3 linked regions of the Homo sapiens genome follow. The protein of the gene in region 2 interacts with the protein of the main gene of each other region in a pairwise test. Each region holds a gene or a part of one and is shown on either strand. Other genes may lie near its edges. The genes, in order: TM4SF18, CYB561A3 and HERPUD2.

Evidence for each region.
Region 1: the proteins of CYB561A3 (region 2) and TM4SF18 interact in binary tests that used the Homo sapiens proteins (3 or more experiments, as listed by UniProt).
Region 3: the proteins of CYB561A3 (region 2) and HERPUD2 interact in binary tests that used the Homo sapiens proteins (3 or more experiments, as listed by UniProt).

Annotation. Positions count from the first base shown.
Region 1 is NC_000003.12:149,323,329-149,330,978, forward strand, and holds part of TM4SF18 (transmembrane 4 L6 family member 18), read right to left. Parts: intron 7,092-7,650; coding exon 7,002-7,091; intron 1,695-7,001; coding exon 1,552-1,694; intron 1-1,551.
Region 2 is NC_000011.10:61,358,622-61,366,198, forward strand, and holds the start of CYB561A3 (lysosomal membrane ascorbate-dependent ferrireductase CYB561A3), read right to left. Parts: upstream 3,262-7,577; 5' UTR 3,112-3,261; intron 2,722-3,111; exon of another isoform or gene 805-2,721; intron 1-804. Other genes in the region: TMEM138 (transmembrane protein 138), read left to right, coding at 5,770-5,897, 7,424-7,577. UniProt on the Homo sapiens protein: Transmembrane reductase that uses ascorbate as an electron donor in the cytoplasm and transfers electrons across membranes to reduce iron cations Fe(3+) into Fe(2+) in the lumen of the late endosome and lysosome.
Region 3 is NC_000007.14:35,632,159-35,636,785, reverse strand, and holds the end of HERPUD2 (homocysteine-responsive endoplasmic reticulum-resident ubiquitin-like domain member 2 protein), read left to right. Parts: intron 1-1,327; coding exon 1,328-1,651; intron 1,652-2,356; coding exon 2,357-2,474; intron 2,475-2,934; coding exon 2,935-3,096; 3' UTR 3,097-4,127; downstream 4,128-4,627. UniProt on the Homo sapiens protein: Could be involved in the unfolded protein response (UPR) pathway.

The sequences.
Region 1 (7,650 bases), on a different chromosome or scaffold from region 2:
TTCCCTAAACCTATCTCATACCCCCATTTACCCCTATCTCCATCTCAGCTGCCAGGGAAATGAGTCCCTCCAGATCCCTCCTCTAGACTGTTCCTAGTACATGCTCTGCACAGATCATCTAGCAATTTAAAACAAGATGACTTGCAATGTTGCAGGAAGTCGGGGACCCCAAATGGTGGGACTGGCTGGAGCCGCGGCAGAGAAACATGAATTGTGAAGATTTCATGGACATTTATCAGTTCCCAAATAATACTTTTATAATTTCTTATGCCTGTTTTTACTCTAATCTCTTAATCCTGTTATCTTCATAAGTTGAGGATGTACACCACCTCAGGACCACTGTGATAATTGTGTTAACTGTACAAATTGATTGTAAAACATGTGGTTTGAACAATATGAAATCAGTGCACATTGAAAAAGAGCAGAATAACAGAGATTTTTAGGGAACAAGGGAAGACAACCATAAGGTCTGACTGCCTGTGGGGTTGGGCAAAAAGAGCCATATTTTTCTTCTTGCAGAGAGCCTATAAATGGATATGCAAGTAGGAGAGACCTGAGGGAGAGTCATGTTTGCTAAGAAAGGTCATGGTATATGGCACCATGTAAAAATCTTCAGAATGAAGGCAGCTACAGTCACAGAAGCAGCTCTGCCATGTAGGCCTAGATGCACATGTAAGACCTCAGATGGACATGGGCCTTGAACAATAAAGCTAATCATGGAGAGTTGAGAAGAAAATTTAACTTCCCCCAGTGAATGGTACAGACATTCCCTCATTTTACTCCATTAGAATTCTGGACCTCTTCTGTATTTCTTTCTGGGCCCTGCTACCTCCTAATCTGCATCTGGTGCTGGGAACCCAATAAGCCCAGCACAATGCCAGTGTGAGGCATTCTGAGATCCGGGATTGGGTTGTGAGACTCCTGACTGAATTACTAGCCTTCTGAGCAAGGCTACCTCTTTAGACCCTTCTCCAGTATAAGCTGCATAAGCTCTGGCTCATTCCACAAACTCCTGCACCTAATCATGTTCCTGGACCTCAGACTGTACTTTCCTGCTCATCCTGCCTTGTTCTATCTCTTTATCATCCCTCCTACTATAGCCCTGAGTGGCACCATCCAAGAGCACCATGGTTTCTCTCCTCCTCAAGCCCTTTTACACTTGTAACAGACCACATGTCCAACCTGGCCATAAAACAAAACTGAGTTCCTGGATCCACCCAGTCCATAAGCTCCAGCTGTTACCAGACCAGACCATAGTAACCACACAACTTTAATCTGAGGTATGGGAGAAACACACCTTTCATTTGGATAGCTCCATGACAACCTCAAGACATTGAATGAAAATGGCATTAAAAGACTGAAGAAAAAAATCTAAACAAAGATCTGTGCAAGAACAAATTGGTCTGGATATTAGTAAACTAACAGGGAAATTCTGCACTAAAACAGCCACATGGAACCCCAAAGTGATCATGGAAAATGAGCGTGAGCTTGAGCATGAGGCAAGGTGTTTCTGATTTTCCGACCTCCTTGGTTTGGGGAATTATTCCTTACCGTCCAGCAGTGCCTTCAAAAGCATACTCCCAGCCATCAAGGGTGCGGCAATATGGCCCTTGGACAAGACCCAAGGCAGAGATGACCAGGCAGTATCCAGAAAAAGCAATTCCGAGGGAAGAAAAGATAATTGACAGCAGTGTCTAAATTAAAACATAGAAGCAGGTTAGTACCATAGAATGCGACAAGGGGATATTGTGGATAAATTATCAGATAGCTACATTCCCCTATTCACCCAAGCTCATGCAGTCTATACAATACTAAATGCCCACATAGAAATAAAAAAAAAAGTAATCCAAACCTATTTGATCTTAAAAATAAGCTTTTAAATAACGTTTAGTTTGGCATCACATAGAGGTAACTAGGTAATTTACTAAATTTATTCTTTCCTTGTGGAATTTTGATATCAAAATAATGATCTCCTCTTATGAAAATGCAGTGAAGGATGTGATCAATCAACCCATAACTATCTATTGAAGACCTGTTATTTTCTAGGTAGAGTGGGTTCTCTAAGAATTATAAGCTATGACCTCTGCTTTCCTCTTATAAAGATATTAAAATATCTTTACAACAATATAAAGGAAAATGTCAGGTATAGTATTGAAATTTATATTCATATTCAAGTGACGATAGGATTGATGGAGAGGGGGGTGTTTTCATTTGAGTAGAGAGAATGGGTGTTATTCACAGGCAGATCAGTGCAACCAGAGTTGTGAGAAAGTAGGTTTAATCTAAGAGGGGTTTATTCAGATGAGTGAGGAGAAAGGCTCTGAAGACAGATTGACATGGTACTAATGCTGGGAAAACAAGGTTGATAGGGCACAATTCAGCCCTTGAGTAGCTTAAAAAGTGAGTACAGCTTGGTAGATCCAGGCCAGAGCTGGCCTTGAATGCCAGGTTAAGAAATCTGGACTTTATCCTTCAGGGCAAGGGACTTCCCTCCTCCCAACCTTAAAAAATGTCAAATCTACAAAAAAGTTGAAAGTATAGCACAATAAACCCCTACATATCCTTTATCTAGAATCACCTACATGAATATTTTACCATATTTGTTTGTGCTTTCTCTCTTTCTCTGTGTGTATGTGTGTATATATTCATGCAAAGTATATATGTACACCTGTACATATATACAAATATGTATTTATTATGTGTTTTTGTTACTGAGCCATTAGGTTGCAGACATTATGATATTTCACCCCTAAATATTTCAGCATACACCTCCTAAGAATAAAAACATTCTATTATTTTGTAACTTTTAAATTTTTTTTGTACAGGATCCAATAAAGGTTTATGTACAAGACTACATCTCTTTAGTTTCCTTTAATTTACACTAGTCTTTCTGCCTTTTTGTTTTTTGGGGTGTTAAACTGTTTTTAAGAATCCCTGACAGTTGTCTTGTAGATGTCTCACATTCTGGGCTTTTCTGATTATTTTCTCACAATTGAATTCAAACATTTTAGCGAGAATACTTAATGGGTGTGGTGTACATTGTGGGCCTTTCATGCTAAGGGTGGTGCTAAGTTTGATCTCTTGGTTAAGAGTATCCTTCAGATCTCTTCCCTGGATAGGTACATTTTCCTCTTGGCAATTAGTAAATAACTGCCAAGGTGATGCTTTGAGACAGTGTCATATTCTGTTTCTTAATAACATTTCAACTGATGGATTTAGCATCCACTGATGATCCTCATATTCATTGATTACCAGCAATCACTGTGGTTCCAATGTGCTGCTTTCATAATGCTATAATTTATCTGCATTTATGTTATCATTTTTCTGCACAGAACAACTTCCATTTCCCATTCCTCTCTCCTTTGCCTCTGTCTATATTTTCTGGACTCACAGATCTTCTAATTCATTGTGCTATAATCCATAAATGCGATTATTCTTTTAGATGCACAGATGGTCCAAATTCGGCCAATGTGAACATCCCTGTAGGTCAACTCCTATGCCCTTTGACATACTCATGTCATTCTTTGAACATTTTCTTGCTTTCTGGCACAAGATGTTCCAGGTTCATTTTGAGCTTACCCTGCCATAGACCTGGAAGAAGCTGGGGTTTTGTTGTTGTTGTTGTTTTGTTGTTGTTTTTGAGTTGTAGTCTCACTCTGTCACCCAGGCGGGAGTGCAGGGCCTGATCATGGCTCACTGCAACCTCCACCTCCTGGGTTCAAACGATTCTCCTGCCTCAGCCTCCTGAGTAGCTGGGACTACAGGCACGTGCCGCCACGCCTAGCTCATTTTTGTATTTTTAGTAGATATGGGGTTTCACCATGTTGGCCAGGCTGCTCTCAAACTCCTGACCTCAGGGGATCCACCTGCCTTGGCCTCCCAAAGTGCTGGGATTACAGGCATGAGCCGCTGTGTCCGGCCAGAAACTATTTTTTAAACAAGTCTTGTAATTGGTTTTTGAGCAGGAAGTGATATGCCCAAAATGTGCTTTTGGAAGATTGCTCTGGCAGTGGTCACACAAGCTGGAAGTAAGAGACCTCAAAGATAAGGATCCAGCTTGGAGACAGATGCAAGTTGAGGTGACAAAGACACACATTGGAGGAAAACACATTAAGGAGGAAATGAGTAGCTGGAGATGAAAAAAAAAAAAAAATCCAGAGCTGGGGCTTGGATAAAAAGGAGACAGAAATAAGGATACCAAGAAAGGTTATTTGGTTTGGGGGAAAAATTAGCTTTAGAAATGTTGATTGCAGGGTGAGAGTAGGCAGCAGAATAGTAACATGCAGTAACCAATTGATAATAAATTCAAAAGCTGAGACCAGAAAAAGTAAGACCAACAAACCTGTGATTTTAGGAATAAAAATCATCTCAATAACATTTCTTTGTTTAAAATTATTTCACTGAGTATGACATTAATATATCCTCTTTATGGAAAACTGGAAAAAATATTCACTGGGAAGATCAGTGAAGAATTTCTTCATTGGGGGAAACTGGCAGCCATAGCATACACACACATGCACACGCACACACTACAATCTAATGAGTGGATACCATTGCACTATCAAGGTAAGCCTCAAAATAAAGTGGGAATAAGAATTTGAATCATAGTTTTCTTTTCTGTAAACTGTAGATGATGTAGACAGGAATGGTACCTATGTGACAGGGCAATTTCAAAAATAAAATATAATAAAATATTAGCTATTATTTCAAGTGCCCTTATTTGGCCAATATTTGCTTTCCAGGAATAATTGTCCAAGAATTTTGGCAGAAAACCAGACTCCATGCAGGAATGGAGAGTGCCTTAGTTCCTGCTGCTATAATAAAAATACCTTAGACTGAGTAATTAATAACAGAATTTTATTATTCACACTTCTGGAGGCTGGAAAGTCCAAGATCACTGGCAGATTCAGTGTCTGGTGAGGGCTCATTCCTCATAAATGGCACCTTCTATGTGTCCTCGCATGGTGCAAGGGAGGTAAGAGTACTCCCCTCAACCCCTTTTATAAGGGCACCACTCTCATTCATGAGGGAAGAGCCATCATAACTTAGTCACTTCCAAAAACATCCCACCTCTTAATATCGCCACAGTGAGAATTAGGTTTCCATGTGAATTTTGGAGGAACACATTCAGGCCATAGCAGATAACAACCAAGAAATGAATCAATTTTTATTACATTTTGGAAGTTACAAACTGATGCAGATTCAGTTTTTCCCACAATATGTACTTTGTTTGGTTTAAATGAAGATTAATTGCCAATATTTTACAATTGAAAAGTTTTACATAAAAATCCATATTTTTACTTTCTACTGAAAACTGAGAATTATTGCCCTACTTGATCATGGCAACAACTGGCTGGACTTCAGTAGCAGCTCCTTCTCCTCCTTAGATGGAAATTGTGCTCTGATGCCTACCAGGCTCATTTAATTCATTTATGTCACACACGTGGCTTCTGGGGGCATTTGAATTGGGACTTCTCTTCTAGAACTTACCTTGAAAAGGCCAAAAAGGGAACCCGGAGAATCCTCTCTTTCTTTCTCCTGCTGTTCCCAATGAGATGTTAGTCATCTAATTTAATGCTGATTATAAGACCCTTTTCAGACTATTTCTAGCATCTATTTGTGCTAGAAGTGCTAATAGTGAGTTAAGGCAAATTGAACATGTGAATTTTTATTTTACACTTAATATCACATATATTTGTTTTCTAGAAATTCTCTGAGTATCATAACTTGAATCTATACCTGAATTTATTATTTCCCCTAGGCAATTTTGAAATCTCTTCCATAAGTATATTACAAGTAGCTACTGGAGGATGACTGAGTCAACTGGTCACACACACACACACACACACACACACACACACACACACACGAGTGTATTTTAAATTTTCAATTCTTCTCCATAAGGGACACAGTACTAAATAAAGCAACGAATTTAATTTTTAAAAGACATTGGTCAAAGAAAATTTGCCATACAATCTTGACTACGCATTGAAATATCCTGGGGAGATTTAAAACATATCCATGCCCAGGTTGTACCTCAGACTAACTAAATCAGGGACTCTGGGGATGGGATTTAGGCATTAGTGTTGTTCCAAGCTCCCAGGTGATTGCAATATGAAGCTAACAGGTAGAAGCACTGCTGCAAAAAATGCCTACCAGATATCATCATAAAACTCCTCCTAGCTAATAATCACTTGTTCTCTTTGAGCCACAAGTGCTTCATCTATAAAATAGGAGCAATAATGACTTAATTCACTGAGTAAATGTGAAAGAACTATAAAGTGCTATGCAAGTGTGAATAAACGATGAAGAGGAGGAAGAGGATGAGAAGGAGAATGGTAGAAATGCAGGAGCACTGGCTTAGAAAATGCGGTTGTATTATTCACCCTGATACTATTTTAATTATTTTTCAAGTGCCAACTTAGAAAATGCACATCACATACACCCAACAATATGGATGAATCTAAAAATTATTATCCTGGATGAAAAAACCCAGATAAAAAAGACAAATATTGTATGATTCCACATATATAAAATACAAACTAATCTATAATGACAAAAAGTAAATCAAAGGTTAATCTTTGGGGGTTGGCAGAAATATTCTGTTATCTTGACTGCAATGGTGGTTTCATGAGTGTAGTCAACTGTTAAAACTCATGATATTGCATAATTTTAATGGATGCCACTTATTATATGTAATTTAGCCCTCAATAAAGTTTGTAAAGAAAAAATAGACTAATGGAAACTTAGTTAGGAAAAAAAAGTATTATTTCCTAATTTTAGGTATCTTTAAATGCTGATTTTCTGAAAGTGCATCAGTAGAACAAAAGTGGAGGAAAGACTAAGCAAAATGGAAGATGATCTTGGCAGTAAACTCTTGATCTCTGTACTGTACTCAACAGTAGTGAGGGTATAATACTGTCAATATTTTTGTGTTTCTGAGTGAGAGGAAAGAAAGCTGGAGCCCACTCAACCATCCTCAAAAAAACTGTTGCTCTTACCACATATTTTTTGCTGCAGTTTTCACTCTGGCAACATTTATAGTTGTTATTATTCTCCAGTACCAGAAGAACTGTTGTTACTATAAGCATCTATAGGAGGGAAGACATAAAATGTTAGCAATGAAATGCTAGTTTACATTTGTGCTTATAATCAGAGGACAGCGTCTTCAAGCATAGAGTCTGGGGTCAGGTAGATATGGATTTGAATCCAAGCTCTGTCACTTTCTAGCTGTGTGAATTTGAGACACCTTCTGTATAAAATGGTATCAAGAGATCGTCACGAGGTAATATATGTGACATTTTGAGTATAGTGGTTGATTCATAGTGACTGATAAATGTTAGCTATTATTATCATGGTTAGCAACCATCAAAAGCTAATGATTAAGGAGAAGTAAATGGATGGACAGGAGAATACCACCCTGGGCAGCAAAACCTGCCTTTCTCAATGACTCAGTTGTGGAGAACCAAGGAAAATCATTCAGCAGGCTTGGTAGTTTGCCAGCCTCTCTTCATTTACTGTCCTCTGGGAATGGAGGTGAGAGGCTCAGTTAATCTGAAACCATATCTCTTTAAAGTGACTTCAATTTCCCCATGCATTCAAACCATCTCAGGTTTAAATTGTTTCAATGTGTTTTGTCTGTATCAAGCC
Region 2 (7,577 bases):
GGTAGGCTGAGGCAGGAAAATCGCTTGAACCCGGGAGGTGGAGGTTGCAGTGAGCTGCGATCACGCCACTGCACTCCAGCCTGGCGACTGAGCGAGACTCCATCTAAAAATATATATATATACATAGAATTCTTAGTCATTGCTGTCATGCACTTCATCCTAACTACTAACATGCAGCTCATGTTCCTTGTGCCTGCCCAGGCCTCTCAGTGGCCCTCAGCCATGCCATGCCAGCTCTCCCCATGCTAGGGGTCCACCTACTTAGGTAAAGATGCACAAGGTGACCCAAGTTGGCAGTAATCTCTGAGAAAGGAAGGTCCAGCCAGGCTCGGTGGCTCAAGCCTGTAATCCCAGCACTTTGGGAGGCCGACGCGGATGGATCACCTGAGGTCAGGAGTTTGAGACCAGCCTGGCCAACATGGTGAAACCACGTCTCTACTGAAAATGCAAAAATGTGCTGGGTGTGGTGGCGCACGCCTGTAATTCCAGCTACCAGGGAGGCTGAGGCAGGAGAATTGCTTGAACCCTGGAGGTGGACGTTGCAGTGAGCCGAGATCGCGCCACTGCTCTCCAGCCTGGGGGACAGAGTGAGACTCTGTCTCAAAAAAAAAAAAAAAAAAGAAAAGAAGGTCCAAGGGCTGCAGGGAAAAAGCTTCCATGAAGCTGGCAGGAGAAAATCATGCCACCAGCCTCCTAGAAGATTTGTGACTCAACTACTTAACTCAGAGATTTGCTACCCAGCCTCAGAACTGCCTCCTCAATTCCTCCAAGGGCAGAGGACGTTTCAGATCACCAGATATTCACCTAAAACACTCTCCATCCCTCAGTGAAATGTAAGAGATCTTGATCAGCAGGCTCACTCATCTGACAATATCTACTTCCACAACTGTTTTTTTTTTCTTTGTAAGAGGAAAAAGTAAATGCAGTCCGAAAGGATCTGTAGCCACACCCTAGAAAAGGTCCTGGTTTACTGCTCTGTGACAGACTTAGAATAGACCCTGGGCACACTTTCCTGACAGAGAGCTGCAAAGTTATATTGCCCTGCTCACAATACACAGATAAGCCCTCCTACTTCCTGAAATAGAGCAAAGCAGGAGAAAAGGAAGAATGCAGTGAAGGACCAGCACAGTGATTCATGCCTGTAATCCCAGCACTTTGGGAGGCCCAGGCAGGTGGGTTACCTGAAGTCAGGGGTTCGAGACCAGCCTGGCCAACATGGCAAAATCCCGTCTCTACTAAAAATACAAAAATTAGCCAGGCACGGTGGCATGCGCTTGTAGTCCAAGGTACTCGGGAAGCTGAGGCACGAGAATTGCTTGAACCCAGGAGGCAGAGGTTGCAGTGAGCCAAGATCACGCCACTGCACTGCAGCCTGTGCAACAGAGATAGACTCTGTCTATAAATAAATACCCAGGAGTTCCAGACCAGCCTGAGCAACAGTGAGCCCTCATCTCTTAAAAAAAAAAAAAAATTAGCTGGGCGTGATGGCATCCACCTGTAGTCTCAGCTACTCAGGAGGCTGAGGTGGGAGGATGGCTTGAGCCCAGGAGAAGGCTGAAGTGAGCCGAGATCGCACCACTGCACTCTAGCCTGGGCGACAGAGCTAGACTCTGTCTCAAAAACAAAACAAAACAAAAAAACCGTGAAAACTGCAATGCAAATGCTTGAAAATATCCTCTCATTTGTTCTAAGGGCAGGCTGGGCTGTGATCCCAGGGTGTGCTCACTTTGCAGAGCCCCATTCTAAGGGAGCAGTCAGCAAGCTCTTCTGTAAAGGTCCAGGTAGTAAATATTCTAGGCTTTGTAGAGCACATGGTCTGTCACAACTATGTCATCAACTCTGCCCATGCAAGAGCAGCCACATAAACATCTTAACAAATGAGCACCACGGCTGTGTTCCAGTAATATTTATTTATGGACACTGAAGTCTGAGTTTCACATAATTTTCACGTCACAAGATATTATTAACTTCTTGCGAAAAAGGATTCTCCCGGCTGAGCTAAAACAGGTCACATCCAGGGGTAAGAAATGCTAGTTCCCATCCAGCCCTTAGTCTTAGAAAAAGGCTCTACGCAGGCTGGGCGCGGTAGCTCACGCCTGTAATCCCAGCACTTTGGGAAGCCGAGGCGGGCGGATCACATGAGGTCAGGAGTTCGAGACCAGCCTGACCAACATGGAGAAACCCCGTCTCTACTAAAAATACAAAAATTAGCCGGGCGCGGTAGCGGGCGCCTGTAATCCCAGCTACTTGGGAGGCTGAGGCAGGGGAATCGCTTGAACCCGGGAGGCGGAGGTTGCAGTGAGCCGAGATCGTGCCACTGCATTCCAGCCTGGGCGACAGAGTGAGACTCTGTCTCAGAAAAAAAAAAAAGAAAGAAAAAGAAAAAGGCTCTACTCCAAACTCTTGCAGTGTTACTTTTATAATTTAGAACTACAAATAAATGAAGGGGTAGAAAATCAGTTTGTTGCTCTCCCTCCCCGATGGACTGGGGGACTTCAAGAATCTTGAGGACCAGATTTAGGATACAAGCCCTAAACCCTCATCTTACAAATCAAAAACACTGTGACACTGGGGCCCAAAACAAGAAAATGACTTAGCCAAGGTAAGTGGCCGAGCTGGTACAGGAATTCGGGTCCACTCCCTCTCAGCTCTGAGGATTCCTTATTCTCAAAGGTAGCTTCTGTTAAAGTCGGAACATGAGGAGTGAAGGGCTCAATATTCCTGCCAAGGAGGTAGGTGAACAAGTTACCCCTTAGCACCGGAATAATTATAGACCCCGACTTCAGGCTGTGCCTAGGTCCGGCTCAGGTGTCCAAAGAACCGTTCCAGGCACCCGAGGGGTGATCCCTGACTCCTCTGCTGGGTGCTCGTGCCAGCTAACAATGGGTGAAAATTGGGGTGAGGAGCTCCAGGTGCTTTCTGCGTCCTCTGAAGAGCTTTCGTGCCTTTATAACCACCGCGTTGGAAGGAAGAGCGCGGAGAAAGGTGCCCACTTTCTAAAAGAGAAAATTGAGGCCGAGCAAGGGGATCGCGACAGTGCGAAGCGAGATAGCAGCGGAACCAGCATTCGAACCCAGGTCCCTGAACTCCCAGCCCCGGGATCCTTCTCACCCCTAACCACAGTGGGACGAAGTGAGGCCGGGATCTCCGGAACCCGCCTCTCGCTACCAGGCGCCGGAGCTGCCGCTCCCGAGGTTCCTAGGAGATGCAGAAGACACTGCCCTGAATGCCTACAGCCGGCTGGCAATGCCGCCCCAGAGCAGAGCGGCGGGTGCCGCCTCGCCTTCTTATAGGCTCGCAGCACTTCCAGTCGCGCGCGAGGCCTCCTGGGAAGTGAAGTCCGGAGACCAGGGGTGGCCGGCTCCCAGCGCGCCAAGCTGCTAACCCCCTAACTCCCGTTCCTCCTCGGCGTTTCTTCTCCAAGTCCGAAGTCAGGGTCCAGGACTGCTGCGATGCATCAGCCCCGCCTCTCATCCCCCATCCAGAGGAGGCGGAAATGTTCAGGTGAACGCGAAGCCTCCCACTACGAGCCGGCCCTCAGCAAGGCCGTGCGCAGTGTGGGCGGGAGCCCTAAGTCAGCTAGCGGCGACGCTGGGAGGGCCCGGAGCAGGCCGGGCCCCGAACAGCGAAAGCTCCAACATGGCGGCCAGACTGGCCATAGAGCGGGAAGAGAAAGCCGGGGACTAGCAGGCCGCACGGCGCAGACGGGGCCCGCCTCCTCCATTTACTTCCGGAATTTAAAGCCGGCTTCCGGAAGCCGGGACGATGTCCGCATGACAACCGACGTTGGAGTTTGGAGGTGAGAGTGATTGACGAGGAGTGGGTTAAGTGACCAGAAGTCAGAATTTTTGGTGCTGTTGTTTTGGGCTTGGGTTTTATGCTTTGTTGTTGTTTGCCAAGGAAGCCTCGTTTTTAAGTGGATTGGGAAGCGTGAGGAATACTGCCCTAGGTACAAAGGGAAGGCGGCAGGTAGCGGTGGACGAATTAAAGAGCTTCATGAGCTTGTGAGTCTCCACTGCCCTAAACTGGAGGGGATCGTCGTACGTAGAGACAGGCATGGGCGTTTCTGCATAACGGATCCTCAAAACAGCCCTGGATGGTGGCCTATGAGTAGTGGTTAAGAGCACGGGTTTGGCGTCACAGTTATGAAGCCGGGTTCTGCTGACTTGAGACCTGGAGGAATGCCTTGAGCTCTGACTTCTGTGTCCTTTCCTGTAGAATAGGAATAATTCCCACCTTGCAGACTTGTAGGGAGGATTAAAGGAAACGATCTTGGTTGACAAGTTTATCGTGGTGTGAGTACCTAGGTAGTAGCTATCAGTGTTATTTAATGCGGCCGGGCGCAGTGGCTCACGCCTGTAATCCCAGCACTTTGGGAGGCCGAGGCGGGAGGATCACGAGGTCAGGAGATCGAGACCATCCTGGCTAACATGGTGAAACCCCGTCTCTACTAAAAATACAAAAAATTAGCCAGGCGTGGTGGCACGCACCTGTAGTCCCAGCTACTTGGGAGGCTGAGGCAGGAGAATCGCTTGAACCCGAGAGGCGGAGGTTGCAGTGAGCCAAGATCATGCCACTGCACTCCAGCCTGGCGACAGAGCGAGACACTCTCTCTCTCTCTAAAATTTAATGAATGAGGAAACCGCGAACATATGTCCAATAAGGTGGGACTTCACCAGCTGAGGTGGAGGAGGTGCCTTAACCTTCCGGAGCCTCTGTGTAAAATGGGGATAATATACATTGTAATGGCTACTTCTCAAGATGGTTGTAGGATTACGTAAGGTTAGAAATATGAAAAGAGCTTATAAATTGCAAAACATTTTACCGATGCTAATTTAATCGCTAACACTCCAGAGCATTTTGAAATTTCTTTATAGATTTGGCACAGCAGCGGGTCATAGGACACCCCCAGAGCAACTTGTGGGTCTTGGAATAGATGAAAAGAAACAACTGCCACTGTGTTGCAACCATAACCCTAAAGATAAAGCTTTCCAGGAGACCCCTGTTTCCTCTCTGCTTTTTCTGCCTAGGGCACTTCACACTTCTTTGCTGGCATTTTTCCTGCCTAGTTAAATACTAGTCTATCAATTATGTAAGAGACAGCTTAGTCCAGTAGTTAAGAGCACAGACTGTGGACCCGTGCAGCCTGCATCTGAATACTAGCTCTGCCACTTACTAACGACGTGACCTTGGACAAATTATTTTACCTCTCTTGGCCTCAAATTTCTCATCTGTAAAATGGGGAAGGTAATAATGTATTATGTCATCTACCTTGTGAGGTTTAAATAATGTTAGTGCTTGTAGAACACTCCCTGGCACATTGTAAGCAATGTATAAGGATTTGCTGCCATTTTTGTTACCACCGCTACTACATGACCAGGCAGTCATTCTTCTCAGTAATACTACTAGATTCCTTTGGTTAGAGACAGCTCTGCATTGAGAAGATTCCAGGCATGGAGAAAAGCTGGTGAAGGTCCTAGAATAAATGACTTCTTGGGGGTTTTTGTTGTTGGTTTTGTTCACTAAAGTATCCCATGCAACTGGAGTGGTACCTGGCACACAGTAGGTCCTCAGTAAATGTTTATGGTATTAATACATTTCTAACCTTGCTTATCTTTTTGCTCCAACAGGTGCTTGCCTTAGAGCAAGGGAAACAGCTCTCATTCAAAGGAACTAGAAGCCTCTCCCTCAGTGGTAGGGAGACAGCCAGGAGCGGTTTTCTGGGAACTGTGGGATGTGCCCTTGGGGGCCCGAGAAAACAGAAGGAAGATGCTCCAGACCAGTAACTACAGCCTGGTGCTCTCTCTGCAGTTCCTGCTGCTGTCCTATGACCTCTTTGTCAATTCCTTCTCAGAACTGCTCCAAAAGACTCCTGTCATCCAGCTTGTGCTCTTCATGTGCGTGCAGTAAGGCACTCTGGAAAGCTGAACCCACGCAATTCAAAGGCCCTGACAGTGGTGATTTAGTGTCTTAAAGTTATTAGTAGGCTGGGTACGGTGGCTCACACCCATAATCCCAGGACTTTGGGAAGCCAAGGCAGGAGGATCTTTTGAGGCTGGGAGTTTGAGGACCAGCCTAGGCAACATAGCAAGACCCTGTCTCTACCTACTAAAAATTTTTAAAATTAGCTAGGCATGGTGCCACACACCTGTAATCGCAGTGATTCAGGATGCTGACGTGGAAGGATTGCTTAAGCCCAGGAGTTCAAGGCTACAGTGAGCCATGATCATGCCACTGCACTCCAACCAGGTGACAAAGACCCTATCTCAAAAAAAAAAAAAAAAAGCCAGGTGTGGTGGTTCACGCTTGTAATCCCAACACTTTGGGAGGCCAAGGTGGGCAGATCACCTGAGGTCGGGAATTCGGGACCAGTCTGACCAACATGGAGAAACCCCATCTCTACTAAAAATACAAAAATTAGATGGGCGTGGTGGTGCATGCCTGTAATCCCAGCTTCTTGGGAGGCTGAGGCAGGAGAATCACTTGAACCTGGGAGGCAGAGGTTGCAGTGAGCCATGATCATGCCACTGCACTCCAGCCTGGGCGACAGAACAAGACTCCATCTCAAAAAAAAAAAAATGTTTAAGAGTGTCAGATAGCCTGGGCAACATAGTGAGACCTTGTTTCTATTAAAACATAATTTTATTTTTTTTTTTTTGAGATGGAGTCTAGCTGTGTCGCCAGGCTGGAGTACAGTGGCACAATCTCAGCTCACTGCAACCTCCGCCCCCTGGGTTCAAGCAATTCTCCTGCCTCAGCCTCCCTAGTAGCTGGGATTATAGGTGTGCGCTACCACACCCCACTATGTATTTACCACACCCAGCTACTTTTTGTATTTTTAGTAGAGACGGGGTTTTGCCATGTTGGCCAGGCTGGTCTCAAACTCTTGACCTCAAGTGATCTGCCCACCTCGGCCTCCCAAAGTGCTGGGATTACAGGCATGAGCTAATTTTTTTTTTAATTAGCTGAGTATAGTGGCACACACCTGTGGTCACAGCTACTCAGGAGGGTGAGGCGGGAGGATCACTTGAGCCCAGGAAGTTGCTGCAGTGAGCTGTGATCATACCACTGCACTCCAGTCTGGGCAACAGAATGAAACCCTGTCTCGAAAAATAAGGAGTATCAGAGAATCTTCTATAGGACTATGTATGGAAGAAATTTTAAAAATAAAAAAGAGTATTAGAGCAGGAAAGCCTTGACTATGGACTGCAAACCCAACTGATGGGGCCAGTGGGTAATTTTAGGTAATTTTAGCTTCATGTCATTCAGGTCCCAAAACCCATGTTATCTCTGTGAGGGTTTAAGATGTCAGATGCCTATCTCACAACAAAGGACAGGCCTCGTGGTGTCCCTCAGGACATAGTACCTGCTCTTGGGTCCTCACACAGGCCTTCATTGGTTGTACTTTTTTTTATGTCTACAGCATCCAGGATATTGCAGTCCTCTTCAACATCATCATCATTTTCCTCATGTTCTTCAACACCTTCGTCTTCCAGGCTGGCCTGGTCAACCTCCTATTCCATAAGTTCAAAGGGACCATCATCCTGACAGCTGTGTACTTTGCCCTCAGCATCTCC
Region 3 (4,627 bases), on a different chromosome or scaffold from region 2:
CACTGATTCTCTTGCCCACTGTGAAGTCTACATCCTTGTCCTTCCTCCAGACCTTTCCCCATAAAGCTAAGCTGCTTTATGAACCTCGTATCCTAAGGCTCTCTTTCATAAGCCCTTGGCTCCAGACAGGATGTTCATACCTTACATGTTGCCATGGTAATGGTTATCATTTGAGTGACTGCTTTGTGCTCAGTACTCTGCTGGATGCTGTACCCCACCTTGTCTCGTTTGTGAACCTCACAAGAACTGTGTAAGATAAGGGGGGCTTATTATGCTTGCTGCTAAATCATATACTCTTATGTGCATCATTTAACTTGAGAGCCTTAGTTTCTCCCCTTTAAAGTAATGTAACTCACCTGTGTATCAGAATATTCATGAAGTAGGAAGTGTTTTCTAAACTAAAAAGCCCTATACAGGTACAAGGTATTAGCATACTGGCTTAAATAGGATTTTGTAGCCTGGGAACCACTTATTTAACTTTCTTGTGCTCTCTTGATTATTAACTTCTTATTGTAGAAAAATTTAAAAACATAACAAGGTAGGGTAGTAAAAGGAATCCATGTGTACCTATCACCCAGCTTTGACATTTATCAATTCATGTCAGTCTTATTTTACAACTTTCTTCCTTCTGTTGGATAATTTAAAGCAAATCCAAGATATATTATCACTTTACTAGGAAATTTATTCTTTACTGGGAAATTTTAAGCAATCAAATTATATAAGCAAACCTCAGAATCACAATTCTTTCTAACTTGACAAGGATCAGTGGTCCCCAGTTGGAGTTCTTCCAAATCAGTATTGGGGTGGAAGGGTTGTTATCTGAGATGTATTTAGGATTTTAGGATACTAATACAAATCATTTATCACTGACAGTAGACACACAGTATAATAATAGTATATATTTTTAGACAAGCCTTTCAAAACGTGGGTCTGAGGGAGAGGTAGGTGGTGAGCTTGGGAGTATTCATCCCATGTAGAATAACAAAAGGGGGCATTCATGAAAAGGTTTGGACATCTCATTAGCTGTTAAGGTAATTTATTGAAAGAGAGAGGAGTGGTTAACATGGCTGCTCTCACGTCTTTTGCCTTCCCCTGTCATCTTACAATAGCAGGCTGAGAGAACATCCTTTCCTGTGCGACATCTACCATCAACCTTGGCTCCACTTTTCCATTGGAATTTGTGCTTACCTAAGAAATGTGGTGCAGGAGTTGGGATATTCCATATTAGGTTTATGAAAAATACATATAGCTCCCCAAGAAGTTTAAAAAAATATGGTATGGTAAAGTTTTTTTTTCTTTTTAATATTTATTTTGGTGACTATTTCAGTCAAGCTGCAGTTTCAGCTCAGGCCACATCAAATGTCAACCCAACCCAGCCTACTACTTCACAGCCTCTAAATTTGGCACATGTTCCTGGAGAAGAACCCCCACCAGCTCCAAACCTAGTGGCCCAAGAAAATCGACCCATGAATGAGAATGTTCAAATGAATGCACAGGGAGGTCCAGTACTAAATGAAGAAGACTTCAATCGAGACTGGCTAGACTGGATGTACACGTTCTCACGAGCTGCGATTCTCCTTAGCATTGTATACTTCTATTCTTCTTTTAGTCGGTTTATCATGGTAATGGGAGCCATGCTACTGGTTTATTTGTGAGTGATGTTCATTAACTTTTTGTGGTTTAATTTCTGCAACTGTTCAGCACAGAATCTGGTGTAGGGTAGTCTGTTGTGAATGTTGAGTGAAGGAATATGAATGCTGGGCTTTAGATATCTGGCATGTTTTTGATGCCAAAAGCAAGGGAAGGTTTTGTTGAGTGAGAATGTTTATCAGAATTATTTAGAAGCAGATTTTTTGTTTACTGTATTTTATAAAAGTTGTTCATTCAGTGAGACATACTCTATCCATTATTTCGAACTTAACAAGTGTATGATGCACTCCTGCATAAGGTCATCCTCTTTCATTAGAATTACCAATAGTAAGTTCTATAGGTATAAGCCAGATTTTTTTCATAAGTAGACTATTTTTCCCCTGCTCCCTTCTCTCCAAGGGGCAAACAAATATCTAAGTTGTATTTCATTTTGAAAAGTACCAGAAAAGATTTATGATTCCTGATATGTTTTAATAACTAACATAGAGCCAGTGGAGTCCATGATAGACTTAGAGATTTGGGTTGGTTTTCTTTTGCTGTCGTTGCTTTGAAAAGGGTAGTTCCCTGTCCTGAAGTGGGAGATTTGGTCTTTTTATTTATTATAGTTTTAATCATTTTTCTCTTATAGGACACTAATAACATTTTATAGTGTTACAAATAAAAACAACTGTGACTTATTTTATTTTCTCTTTATTTTACTGAACAGACACCAAGCTGGATGGTTTCCTTTTAGGCAAGAAGGAGGTCATCAGCAGGCTCCCAACAATAATGCCGAAGTTAACAATGATGGGCAAAATGCAAACAACTTGGAACTTGAAGAAATGGTATGTGATTGAAGCTTTTGTATACTTAAGATACTGAGATTTTCCCAGCACGGTATGGGACCAACATGATGAAAGAATGTTGGATGTTCCATAAGTATTTGTGAAATGGCACATGAAAGAAAACTAACATATAAATTGTGGTGGTTTCATTTGGGAGAACTTAGAATATTATACTGAATCAGTCATATATTATAACTAAATGGGAAGAAGTAACTTTTTTTTTCTTGAAAATAGCCTAGAAATAAAATTATACACATGGTAAGAATTTATTGTATTGCATTGGCAGTTGTCCCCTTTACGGAACAGTGAGGAATTTATCAATTTTGGCCTTAAAGATTTCTAATGACCACATACATACCACTTCATAGTCCTTTGTTCTACAAAGAATTTAACTGTATTCTATTATGAGCTAATGCTCGTTCATATCACTCAGGAGTATCTTTCTTGTTTTGCTTGAAAGGAGCGTCTTATGGATGATGGGCTTGAAGATGAGAGTGGAGAAGATGGAGGTGAAGATGCCAGTGCAATTCAAAGGCCTGGATTAATGGCTTCAGCTTGGTCTTTCATCACCACCTTCTTTACTTCACTAATACCAGAGGGGCCTCCCCAGGTTGCCAATTGACCTGAAAAACTGTGCCAGCTACAAGGAGGGTCTGACTTCAGGAAAGTGGTTTAAATAACAGTGCAATTTCAAAAAAATTTATAACTTTCTTTTGATCATCATGTACAGAGGTGTTTTTTTTCTTTAGGCTTCTCATGCATATGAATATTTTAAGCACGAATGGACTACTAAATATCTGAGTTTTTTTTTTTTTTTTTTAAAGATCCTAACAGAACATAGCGTAACAATATTGGTCTTCCAGGTGTTACTCATTTCAATTATGTGTAGTATACCAGGACAGACCTATTTTCATGTCTTATTTCTTTAAAGAGCTGCTTCATTGGCCGGGCGCCATGGCTCACGTCTGTAATCCCAGCACTTTGGGAGGCCGAGGCGGGTGGGTTACTTGAGGTCAGGAGTTCGAGACCAGCCTGGCAAACATGGCGAAACCCCATCTTAACTAAAAATACAAAAAAATTAGCCGGGTGTGGTGTCACGCGCCTGTAATCCCAGCTACTTGGGGGGCTCAGGCAGGAGAATTGCCTGAACCCAGGAGGCGGAGGTTGCAGTGAGCTGAGATTGGGCCACTGCACTCCACCCTGGGCGACAGAGTGAGACTCGGTCTCAGAAAAAAAAAAAAAAGAGCTGCTTCACATATAAATGTCTATAGCTAGTAGCCTGGCCCTTTAATGTTTAATTTGAATAGATATATCTGTTTTCCGTGAATTATCTTGAAAGTTTTAAACAGAATGACCTCATAGTTTTTAATAAAGAATATTATTTACCTAAAATGTGCTAGTAGCATCTTGCCCAGCCATAAAGCAATAAACTTCTCAATAATCTTAATTTTGATATTTGAATAAATAATGGAAACTTTCTGTATTAAGGGCATGTATCCCATCAATTGGAATCAGTACCTTAACAGAAAAAGGCAGCTCTTCAATGGAATTAACGTGATATAAAATGTTTGATATAGGCAGTACTTTTATAAAAAAAGATAAGCTGGAAATTGCTCCGTGTAATTTTTTAAATAAAAAGTCAATTATGGTAAACAGTTTTATGGGATATTTGTTCAAACTCTTCACCCATTACATGCAAACATTTATGTAAATTTTAGTAGTTGTTTGGAAGGGTTGCTGAAGTCTTAAAGGTCATTTACACCTCTTTCCATTCCAGATGGATATCTCCTAGTTAGATTGAAACCTCATTAGTTTATTTAAAAATCCCTGTGAAAGCCAATTTAATGTATCATGAGAAGGCAGTAAGTTTCTTATGGGATAGCTAAATAAAACAAATATGTGTGGGAGAACTTTATATCACATGAAATACATTATAAAATTATGAATGTGGTAGTGGCCCAGGGGAAAAAATATATATATATGATTATATATATATGATTATATATATGATTTATATATGATTATATATATATGATTATATATATGATTTATATATGATTATATAAAAATTTGTATATTTTTATATAATTATATATAATTATAATATATATTTATATATATAATTTGTATATATTTATATATAATTTATATAT